Linked DNA regions of Homo sapiens: regions 1 and 3 are each linked to region 2. The links come from fine-mapping of genetic effects on gene expression. A gene starts in region 2. Each other region holds a variant in brackets. All regions are shown on one strand. Distances are between the middles of the regions. Region 1 has its middle 33 kb from the start of RERG-IT1. Region 2 holds the start of ERP27 (endoplasmic reticulum protein 27). Region 3 overlaps PLBD1 (phospholipase B domain containing 1).

Region 1 (4,113 bases), 140 kb after region 2:
ATTCTTTTCATGTGAAATCCATTGTCTTTAAGTTACTAGTCAATCAAATTACTACCTTCTCTTCCAAGAATGTTAAAGTTGGGGGTAGGGAGAATAGTCCAAATTTATTGCCTTTGAATTTTTATCTCCAACCCATCGTCCCATGTCAATATGATTTTTGATGTCTTTGCTTTGTGGAATGTTCTGTACAAGTTCAATGACTTTTAGTTTATCTGAGACAATAGATTTATCTTGCTTTTCTACCTGCTTGACCTGTGCAGCATTTGTCATTAGTAACAATCATGCTTTTCTTAAAATCCTTCTTATATTACTCTGTTTTTGTATCACTAACTGCAATAAACTGAATGCTTATGTTCCCCCAAAATTCATATGTCAAAATCCTAACCCCTAAAATGATGGTATTGGGATGTGTGGAGCCTCGTAAATGAGATTAGTGTTCTTATAAATGAGACCCCAGAGAACACTTTCATTCTGTCTGTCATGTGAGTTTATAAGGAGAAGCCTGCTGCCTATGTGGAAGTGGGTCCTCACCAGACACCGAATCCGCCTGAGCCTTAACCTTGGGCTTTTTGGCCCCAAGAACACTGAGAAATATCTTTGTGTAGTTTATAAGCCACCAAGTTTATTTTTGTTATAGCAGTCCAAACAGATTACGATGTTGACAATACTTCATTGTCATCTTGATTCTATGTTCTCTGTAGGTATCTAGAAAATATCCGCCCTCAACACATATTCTTTCTGTATTTTCTTTTAGTCATTCTAATTGACTCCTGTGGCTTCAACCATCACCATTAAGCAACTGATTTTCTTGACTGTAGCCCTAAACTTTCTCTCAGGGCTCATATACCTACTTTTTTTTTGAAACTGTGGAATTAATGAAATAGCACTGGATTGAGCACTTCTGATTACTTTGTAGAAAATTGACAGTAATTTACTCCACATTTGTGGGGATCCCTGTCTTCTTCCCAAATCCTTACTAGTTCCTAAGCCCCATAAAGGCAAAGACAGAAACTTATTTGTCTGTGTAGATTTTGCAGTGCTTTGGAAACAGTTGATAAACATTTTGCAGAGCAAATGTTTACCATCATATATGTTTGAAGGCTCTATTAATATTCCAAGGATAATTGTCCTGCTAGTCACCAACTAGATTTTGAGTGTGCCCTTTTTTACAGCAGCCATAAAAGGTGAATTTTTTAAACAACAAACAGGGCCTAAATACTCTGCAAAAGAAGGATGGAAGGATGTGACGAGAGGAGTCAGGGAATGGAAGACTGGATGGATTGATTCTGAGAGGGGTAAAGTCAGAGGGAAATCACAAGGGCATTTTAGGTACAGGAAATCCATTCCATGATTGGAATCTGTTCACCTTCTTTAGTATAGAACCCTTTTCCAACACTCTCAATTCTCCAGTGAAAATGACTACATTCATGAATAATTTTGGCAAGTGTTTTTTTCTTTTTCTTTTTCCTTCGATCCTTAGAATTAGAAGAAGATTGCGTTCCACAGCTAGACCAATTGATTGAGGACCAGAGAGATCAGATATTTGGAGACAGATGTGACAACAAGAAAATTTATAGAAATTTTGGAAACATCTGTAGACTTCCATAGGCTATGAAGTTTCTATCTGGGTCTTGATGTCTCAGTCGATTTCTAAATAATAGTAACATTTACAATGCACCATTTAAAAAATATCATAAAGGCTGGGTGCGGTGGCTCATGCCTGTAATCCCAGCACTTTGGGAGGCGGAGGCATGTGGATCACTTGAGGTCAGGAGTTTGAGACCAGCCTGGCCGACATGGTGACACCTCGTCTCTACTAAAAATACAAAAAAAAAAAAAAAAAAAAAATTAGCCGGGCATGGTAGCGGGCGCCTGTAATCCCAGCTGCTTGGGAGGCTGAGGCAGGAGAATTGCCTGAACCCAGGAGTTGGAGGTTGCAGTGAGCCAAGATCAAGCCATGGCATTCCAGCCTGGGTAACAGAGCAAGACT[C/G]CATCTCAAAAAGAAAAAAAAGAGAAAAAAATACCATCAAATGTAATTTCTTATTTTTCTTGATATACCTAAGTTCCTCAAGGACAGAATCATACCTTATTCATTTTTTGTTGTTTCTTCCTTTCCTATCCCTAAAATACAGACCAGTGAATTACAGGATGAATTATATAGTTGATCAATTTAAATGAATGAAATGAGTAAGTTAATGAATTTAAGCTAATTCCTCACTGTTTACAGCCAATAAACAACCAGATTACCTTGATTTCCAAGATGGGGAGTCTTCCAAATGTGTTAGCAATTATATAGATTCAAGGAAACTACAAGGTTAGTAGTTCTTATACATTAATATGCTTCAAAACAAGCTGGAAGATTTGCTCAAACAATTTTGGGAGCTTCGCACAGAGTTTTTGATTCTGTAGATCTGAGGTGGGTCTCAAGATTTTGTATTTCTAACAAGTTCCCAGGTGAAGCTGATGCTACTGATTTGGAGACCATACTTTGCAAACCACTCATGAAGGTGACATTATTCAAACACACAGAATTCTCTCCATGGAAAACATTGTAGGAAGACTGTTCTTGAAATGCTTAAAAATCTCCTTCACTGCCCTGTGGCATAACAAGGTGGAAGGTACCTGTGTTGTACAGCCTCAGCTCTGACACCCACTCAGGATGACCTTAGGAAAGCCACATCATGCCTTCGTACTTCAGCTTCTTATAAAGAGGTTAACAGAAACTTTTATATTCTGCAAGCTCTTTCTAGAATGTAAACTCTGACTACAGAATTGAAAGTACATTAGCCTTTTATGAAGAATATTAACTCAGCTCTAGTGGTTCTCCAGAAGCTTTGGTTATGAGATTCTGTCATTAGCCAGACCCTGGAAAAGTAACATATTAATATTGGTTATAACTAAAACCAGAAATTGACCTTGTTCATTCTTTTATGCTTTCTCTAATACAAAGATATTGAATGTACCCGATTTGGACTGGGGTCTAGTTTTTCTCCTTCTATATCATGTAAAGTCTGCAGAGATAGGAGAATGGAGAAGTTGCCTTCTTTGACTATGTCCCAGGGGTACTTTAGCTCTTGAGTAGGTGCACAGTAATTTCAATAGAACAACCACTCCAAATGAACAAAGTCTTAAAGGAAAAGCATTTCAAACTCAGTATCTTTTTCTGTTACAAACAATATCCATATTTTAAAATCAGCCACATAGGATAAATATACTTTTATTCTCTCCCTTTTCCAAAAAAGATTTGATTCTTCATAACCATTCATAACCAGAATGCCTTTTTGGAGTTGCGTATGCATAGGGGTTGGTCTTGTATGTACAGGGATTTAGAATAGTCACATAATTTGAAGAAATAGGCAAAACCTAACATTAGTTTTGAACTTCTATATATGGTGATAGGTACCCAATGTAGTTAATAGTGAAGCATTGCCAGTTCATTTACGTGTCATTGGTAATTGTCATCGTTCATTTACTTGCCAGTTCATTACTTGTTCATGCTTATTCATTTTTTAATGGTTGACATAGGTTGACACCATCTAAACAAAGCAATGATTATATTTCTCATCCTTTCGTTTAATCTTTTGTTTGATAGAACATTGAAACAAGTTGCGTTCCAAGTGGTACCCTTTATCTGTGAGCTACCACATGCTCTGTAGAAGAGACTCGTGCGGCATCAGGGAGTCACATTCCACTGTCAAACATCTCTAATTTTTAGTTGTCTGCTCTGTATCCCTGTCAGCACCATGTATTAGACTGATGTTTCGATTCTAGCAGAAAGAAGAAAAATGATACAGGCAACACTAGGATGTAAAATTTTATGAAAATCATGGTACTTTTAGAGCAATAACATACTTTTAGACAACAATCACCTTTTCTTAATATTATGTCGAAAGTGGTTTATGTATTACAGGGGTGACAATCAACCATAGATGCCGTTTGTCCAGGGACAGTCCTGGTTTATGCCTATTTACTCAGGAAACTTACTAATAATGCTCTCTTTTGTTACCACATGCTTTAGTGTGGATGATAAACATGGTCACATTATTTATTAGCAAGTGTAAGCCACACTCAAAAAACTACTGTTTTGTATGTTTATTAAAGAGGTAAGCTGTA
Region 2 (4,113 bases):
TGGGGTCAAGCAGAGGGAGCTGGTATCTACTCTTCTAGAGGCCATGAACAATAATTAATTGAGGCCTCCTCTCTTATTCTGCTCCTTCAGATGGAATTGCTGGAGGATAAAATGATGGCATCTGGCGGCTGTTTAAGTTATTGCACACTCCTCCAATTCCATGCTCTTGCCCCTTCCCCATCTTTCTGACGGTGTTTTTGTCTACAGCTCAGATTTCTCATTCCTGAAAAATGTTGTCCCTGTCTTTCTCCCTGACTTGCATCTCATTGCAGTGATTTCCAACTGTGTACGCAGAACTGACAGGGTAATCAGGAGTTGTAACTGAGAAATGGAAACAGACAAGAAGGTCTGCTATGAGAGAGTAGGGGCTTGATCAGCTGTGAGGATTTCCAGATGCTACCACCAGAGAAAGATGAAAATGCTGGAATGAGGCAGTCTCATTTATGGCTGCCTTTCTTAGTCAAGAAGCTAATCTGGAAGATGGAGGTTAACACCTTGAATATACAAAATGCCATCATTTTCCAACATTTCAGACAAGGCAAAGAGAAAGAAGGAGAGTCTACCATATTTGGGGGAAAGGCTTTAAAAGGCTGTGCACTGACTAATGTCCAGGATGTTTGGCATCCTGTAAACAGTGTTGCTGGATGATATAAATTGGGTTCACTCTGGCCCCTGCCTATTCATAGGGTGCTATGAGAGTATAGACCAAATGTGTTTAGGACAATGGTGGGGTTCCATGAAGGCATTCTTTCTGCAGATACTGACTTGAGCTTCAAAGCATCCATAGATGAGGAGATGCAGCCCACAGGCTCAGAACTCTTGAAGTAAGTATGAGAAAGATATAATTTAGAGACTGGGAATGTCTTGAAAATAAGAGGTCCCAATGGACAAGATGAAATCAAACTGGGTGGCTGTCTCCCTTTACCCCCACTTCTAATGCAGTGCCATCTGCCAGCAGCAGGTGGCTGCTGTGGTTCCCTTAAGGTAGAACATTTCTGGCTCTTGGGGGAATTGCAAGTAGGGAACTAACCTGGAAGAAGCCTATGACAGCCACCTCAGTGGCAGCAATGAATTCCATGGCAGCTGGGACATCTGTGAGCCACGTGGGTTCCTGGGCAGCACCAGGACCATCTAGAGAGAGAAGCAGAAGATGTCAGGGTACTGAGGCAAGAAGAAGCAGCTCTAAATAATGAGGGCATCTATACCTTTTATCTCTATACTAAGGGCAAGAAGAGCACAATTTATAGGAGTACTGTTGGCATTCCAAGGCATAATATTTTTACTAACATATGGAAGGTGACCCTACTGATGGTCTGTCTCTGAAGGATACTGCCAGACTTCCCTACTCTCTACCAGGCAAAATGCACTTATCCAGGATTTCCTGGAAAGCTTTCTAGGTGTGGAGGAAAAGTACCCAGAGAACCACCATGCTCCCTTTCCTTCTCCTAATAACACTTTCACACTATAGCCACCCAACTACATTTTTCTTTTACCTGAGGATTTCTCAACTTCTGCAGCAACTTCTGCAGCCAGCTCACACGTGAGGAGAAATAAGAGGAACATGAACCTGGACGGGGCAGCTTCCATTGTCCCTCTCCTGCTCCTGCTCCAACCCTGGACTTTGTGTTGGGGAGGCCGACTCAGGGCAGCCTACTCTGTAGCTGATTGGCTGTGGGGTTGTTAGGGCTTTGGGAACTTTGCAGCTGGCTCCAGGGGAGCCTTCAACTTCTGAGATAAAAGACCAAGGTTAGTAATAGGGACTCAGAACATATCCAACCAGAAGAAAGTCAGGTCAGTTTATTTAAATAAAAAATGTAAATATGCTATGCCAGGCATTGATCCTAGCGCTAAGAATAGAAAGATAATTATGATCTGATCCAGCCTCTGCCAGCTTAGATTATCAGTGGGAGAGATGGGCAAGTAAAAAGATTATTTAAATATAAGATGGAAAGTGATATAGAAAAATTCATAGGGTGCTATGACAATACATATTAAGGGTATTAGGGACAATGCTAGGGTTCAATGAAAGTGTTCTTCCTGCGGAGGATGCCGGAGCAGAGTTCTGGGTAAGTAAGATTTTGCCAGGCAACACAAGGTAGAAAGGGAGTTTCATGTAAAGAACTAAAGCACAGGCCGGGCGTGGTGGCTCATACCTGTAATCCCAGAACTTTGGGAGGCTGAGGCAGGTGGATCACGAGGTCAGGAGATTGAGACCATCCTGGCTAACATGGTGAAACCCCATCTCTACTAAAAATACAAAAAATTAGCCAGGTGTGGTGGCGGGCGCCTGTAGTCCCAGCTACTCGGGAGGCTGAGGCAGGAGGATGGCCTGAACCCGGGAGGCAGAGCTTGCAGTGAGCCGAAATAGCACCACTGCACTCCAGCCTGGGCGACAGAGCGAGACTCCGTCTCAAAAAAAAAAAAAAAAAAAAAAAAGAACCAAAGCACAGATATGCAAATATAATGTGTGACAGAATTACTAGTAATTGAGAATGATGAAAAGGAAGGAAGTGATACATGTGGACAGAAAGGCATGTTGGGACCAGCTCACAGCAGGCTTTATATGATACACTAAGCGCGGGAGCATCAATTTTATTCTGTAGGTGATGGGAACCACTGAAAAGTCTTAAGCAGAAGAATGAGATGAAGTTTGATTTTGCTCACAAGTGTCTGAGGAAGTCCAAGATGAGATTTCCACAGGCATTGGGATATGTAGTTTTAAGCTTAGGAGAATTTTCATGTGAAAATATTACAAAAGAAATTAGGAAGCCCTAGCCAGGGCAATTAGGCAAGAGGAAGACATAAAAGGCATCTAAACAGGAAAAGAAAAAGTCAAACTATTTCTCCTTGTTGACAATATGATTGTATGCCTAGAAAGCTCTGAAGACTCTGCCAAAAGGCTACTGGAACTGATGAATGATTTCAGTAAGGTATCAGGAAAAAAATAAGTGTACAAAAATTAGTGGCATTTCTATACAGCAATAATGTCCAGGCTGAGAGTAAAATCAAGAACACAATTTCATTTACAATAGCTACAAATAAAATGAAATGCCTAGGAATACAGATAACCAAGGAGGTAAAATATCTCTACAAGGAGAAATACAAAACACTTTTGAAAGAAATCAGAGGTGACACAAATGAAAAAACACTCCATGCTCATGGGTAGGAAGAATCAGTATCTTCAAAATGGCCATACTGCCCAAAGAAATTAACAGATTCAGTGCTATTCCTATCTAACTACCAACGTCATTCTTCACAGAATTAGAAAAGAAACTATTCTAAAATTTATATGGAACCAAAAAAGAGTCTGACTAGCTAAAGCAATCCTAATCAAAAAGAACAAAAACAGAGGCGTCACATTACCCAACTTCAAACTATACTACAAGGCTACAGTAACCAAAATAGCATGGTACTGGTACAAAAGCAAACACATAGACCAATGGAACAGAATAGAGAACCCAGAAATAAAGTCATATACCTACAACCATCTGATCTTCGACAAAGTTAACAAAACCAATCAATGGGGAAAGGATTCCCTACTCAATAAATGGTGCTGTGATAGCTGGCTAGCCATATGCAGAAGAATGAAACTGCACCCTCATCTTTCACCATATAAAAAGTTAACTCAAGATGAATTAAAGATTTAAGACCTCAAACCATAAAAGTCCTAGAAGAAAACCTAGGAAATACTCTTTTTGACATTAATCTTGACAAGTAATTTTTGGCTAAGTCCTCAAAAGCAATTGCAACAAAAACAAAAATTGACAAGTGGGACCTAATTAAAGAGGTTCTTCAGAGCAAAAGGAACTATTGATAGACAATCTACAAAATGGGAGAAAGCATATGCAAACTATGCATCCAACAAAGGTCTAATATTCAGAATCCATAAGAAACTTAAACAAATCAAGAAGCAAAAAACAAATAACCCCAATAGAAAATGGGCAAAGAGCATAAACAGATACTTCTGAAAAGAAGACACACAAGAGGCCAATAAGCCTACAAAAAATGCTCAACGTTACTAATTATCAGAGAAATGCAAATCAAAGCCAAAATGAGATACAATCTCACACTAGTCAGAATGGCCATTATTAAAAAATCAAAAAACAACAGACA
Region 3 (4,113 bases), 420 kb before region 2:
TATAGATAGGCAATTCAATAAAATCAGAAAAGCAAATCATGATATGAATAAAGAATTCAACAGAGATATCATTAAAAAAAAACTCTTGGAGCTGAAGACTTTAATGAATGAAATAAAAAATATAATGGAAAGTTCCAACAGCAGACTACACCAAGCAGAATAAAGAATTTCTGAACTGAAGACAGCTCTTTGCTTGAAGAGTGAAGAAAGCCTACAAGACCTATGAGACACCATTAAGTGAACACATTTTCACACTATAGAAACTTGAGAGGGAGAAGAGATGGAGAAGGGCACAGAAAGCTTCACAAAATAATAGCAGAAACTTCTTAAGTTTTGAGAGAGATATAGAGAACTCTATGCCAACAAATATGAAAACTTAGAAGAAATGGATAAATTCCTGGGCACATAAAACTTAACGAAAATTGAATCATGAAGAAATAGAAAATTTGAACAGACCAATAACAAGTAATGAGATTGAATTAGTAATAAAAAGTCTTCCAGAAAAGAAAAGCCGAAGACCCAATGGCCTCACTGATGAGTTCTACCAAACATTAAAGAAAAACTAATACAAATCCTTTGAAAACTATTCAAAAGACATGAAGAGGAGGGAATACTTCCAACATCTTTCTATGAGACCAGCATCACCCCGATTCCAAAACCTGATAAGGACACAACAAATAAATAAATCTATTGGCCAATATCCCTAATAAACCTAGATACAAAACTCCTCAAAAAAATATTTAAAAACTGAATTCAACAGCACATTAAGAAAAATCACTCACCATAATAAATGGGATTCATTCCAGGGATGCAAGGATGGTTCAATATATGCAAATCAATAAACATAATACATCATATTAACAGAATCAAGGACAAACCCATGAAGGGATGTTGAATCTATTGATCTAGAAAAGATATTTAATAAAATTCAACATCCCCTCATGATAAACACTCTCAACAAAACAGATATACAAGAAATGTAACTCAACACAATAAAGCCCATATATGACAAATTCACAGCTAGCATCATACTGAATGGGGAAAAGTTGAAAGCTTTTCCTCTAAGATCTGGAACAAGACACAAATGCACCACTTTTATTTAACATAATACTGGAGGTTCTAGCCAAAGCAATCAGGCAAGAGAAAGACAAAAAGAGCATCCAAATTGAAAAGGCAGAAATCAAACTGTCCCTGCTTCCAAATGACATAATCTTATACAGGGAAAACCCTGAAAACTTCACCAAAATACTGTTAGAACTAATAAGTAAATTGAGTACAGTTGCAGGATATAAAATCAATATACAAAAATCTATAGCATTTCTATATGACAATAGCAGACAATCAGAAAAAAATAAGAAGGCAATTCCATTTACTACAGCTACAAAAACAAACACTTAACTAAGCGGGTGAAAGATCTCTATGATGAAACCTATAAAATATTGACATAAGAAATGAAGAGGATACAAATGGAAAGATATTCCATGTTTACGGATTTGAGGAATTTTTAAAAAAATGTCCATACTAATCAAAGCAATTGACAGATTCAGTGCAATCTCTATCAAAATACCAATGACATTCTTCATAGAAAGAGAAAAAAATCTTTAAATGTGTATGGAACCTCAAAAGACCCCAAATAGTCAAAGCAATCTTGAGCAAAAAGAACAAAGCTGGAAACATCACACTACCTGGCTTCAAAATATACTACAAAGTTATAATAACCAAAACAGCATAGTACTGGCATAAAAATAGACATATATACTAATAAGACAGAATAAAAAATACAGAAATAAATTCACACACTTACAGCTAATTGATTTTTGACAAAGACACTAAGAACACACATTGGAAAAAATTCTCTTTGATAAATGGTGCT[T/C]GGAAAACTGGGTATCTACATGGAGAGGAATGAAACTAGACCCCTTGCTGGGTATTTATCCAAAGGAAATGAAATAAGTATGTTAAAGAGATATCCACACTCTCATGCTTATTGCAGCACTATTCACAATAGTCAAGATATGGAATCAACCTAAATGGCTATCAACAGATGAATGGATAAAGAAAATATGATACATATACATATAATGGAATACTATTCAGCCATAAAAAGGATCAAATTATGTCATGTGTAGCAATGTGGATGAGCCCTGAGGGCATTATGTTAAATGAAATAAGCCAGGCACAGAAAGACAAATACTCCACAATCTCACTCAGATGTGGAATCTATAAAAGCCGATCTCATACAAGTATAGAGAAGAACAATGCTTACCAGCAGCTGGGGAGGGTAGGCAAGGTGGAAAGGGCTTAATCAACAGGTACAAAATTACAGTTAGATAGAAGGAGAAAGTTGCGGTATTCTATTGCACAGTAGGCTTACTATAGTTAACAATACTATATTATATATTTTAAATAACTAGAAGAGAGATTTTTGAATGTCCTTACCATTAGAAAGTGATAAATGTTTGAAGTGATGAATATTCTAAATACCATGATTTGTTCACTACACAATGTATACATGCATCAAAACATCACACTGTCCCCTATAAATATGTACAATTATATGTCATTTAAAAATAAAATAAAACATAATTCTCAAAAATACACATTTCAGAGACACTATGGTGTGCTATTTTTCAAGTCCACATTTCAACCAAAAATTACCAGGCACTACAGTTAACAATATTGTGTTACATATTTCAAAATAACTATAAAAGAGGATTTTGAACGTTCTTGCCATAAGGAACTGATAAATGTTTGCGGTGAAGAATATACTAAATATGTATATACATTGTGTAATGATCAAGTCATGGTATTTGCTATATTTGTCACCTCAAAAGAAAAAGGAAGGTACGACCCCACACTTAAGTCACTGGAAACTGTTTCCAAGTAGGTCTTGATATTGGGTTTAGCGGACAAAGACAAAACAGGAAAATATGGTTTTAAGAGTTACCAGAGAGGGAATCTCAACATAAAATTAGAAATTAAAGAAAGAACAAAATTGAAATTCTAGATCTGAAAAGTACAGTAAATGAAATGAAAAACTCACTGTATACTTCAACAGTAAATTTGAGATGGCAGAAGAAGGAATTAGAAAACCTGAAGATTGTGGCTGGGCATGGTGGCTCACGCCTGTAATCCCAGCACTTTGGGAGGCCAAGGCGGGTGGATCACCTGAGGTCAGGAGTTGGAAACCAGCCTGGCCAACATGGTGAAACTTCATCTCTACTAAAAATACAAGATTAGCCCAGTGTAGTGGTGCATGCCTATAATCCCAGCTACTTGGGAGGCTGAGGCAGGAGAATCGCTTGAACCTGGGAGGTGGAGGTTGCAGTGAACTGAGATCGCATCACTGAACTCCATCCTGGGCAACAATAGTGAAACTTCATCTCAAAATAAATAAATAAATAAAATAAAATAAACAAAAAATAAAACAAAGAAAACCTGAAGATAGAAGATTAATGGGAATCATCCAATCTGAAGAACAGAGAGAAAAAGAAAACTAAATAAAATTTACAAAGCCCCAAAGACTTGTGCAAAAATGTTTAGCATCTGATGGATAAATGACTGGAGTCCCAGAGGGAGAAGAGAGAGAAAAGAGGATGGAAAAAATATGTGAAGCTATAACTGGTGAAAAACCCTTACATTTAATGAAAAACATTAATTTGCAGTTCCTACCAGCACAACAAACTTAAAATACAATAATCACAAAGAAGACCAGAGCTAGCCCACGACAAAGCTGAAGTCACCAAAAATCTAAATGCAGAAAAAAATTAGAGAGGAAAATAATATACTTAACAGCTTACTTCTCAACACACACACACACACACACACACACACACACGCACACACACACTTGTTTTAATTTTTTAAAAGACAGTAAGTTTTTAAGTAAAAAATCATAACACCATATTGGTGTATTTATAACATATATAGATGGAGCATATATATGACAACAATAGCACAAAGGATGGAAGGCACTAAATGGGATAATTACCATTTTAAGTTCCTATATATTTTTTAGCAGACATAATTGCTTATTAACTTTATGCAAATTGTGATGAGTTAAAGATGCATATCACAAGCCCCAGGGACAACAATTTTAAAAATGCAAATAAATAT

Evidence for each region. PIP is the estimated chance that this variant, and not a neighbour inherited with it, causes the effect.
Region 1: its variant is fine-mapped to the expression of ERP27 in whole blood (TOPMed, PIP above 0.99).
Region 3: its variant is fine-mapped to the expression of ERP27 in thyroid (GTEx, PIP above 0.99).

What each region holds. Positions count from the first base shown.
Region 1 is chr12:15,079,653-15,083,765 of GRCh38, forward strand. No RefSeq gene overlaps it. Among named protein-coding and RNA genes, the nearest start is that of RERG-IT1, 33 kb to the right of the region's middle. The variant C/G (reference allele first, on the strand shown) is at 1,991.
Region 2 is chr12:14,936,922-14,941,034 of GRCh38, forward strand. It overlaps ERP27 (endoplasmic reticulum protein 27), which reads right to left and starts at 1,616. Exons shown (of 7, transcript NM_152321.4): 1 at 1,494-1,616; 2 at 1,031-1,131. The coding sequence starts at 1,587. RefSeq lists an enhancer at 1,072-1,131.
Region 3 is chr12:14,521,880-14,525,992 of GRCh38, forward strand. The region is part of intron 6 of PLBD1 (phospholipase B domain containing 1); the gene reads right to left. Among named protein-coding and RNA genes, the nearest start is that of PLBD1-AS2, 6.2 kb to the right of the region's middle. The variant T/C (reference allele first, on the strand shown) is at 1,874.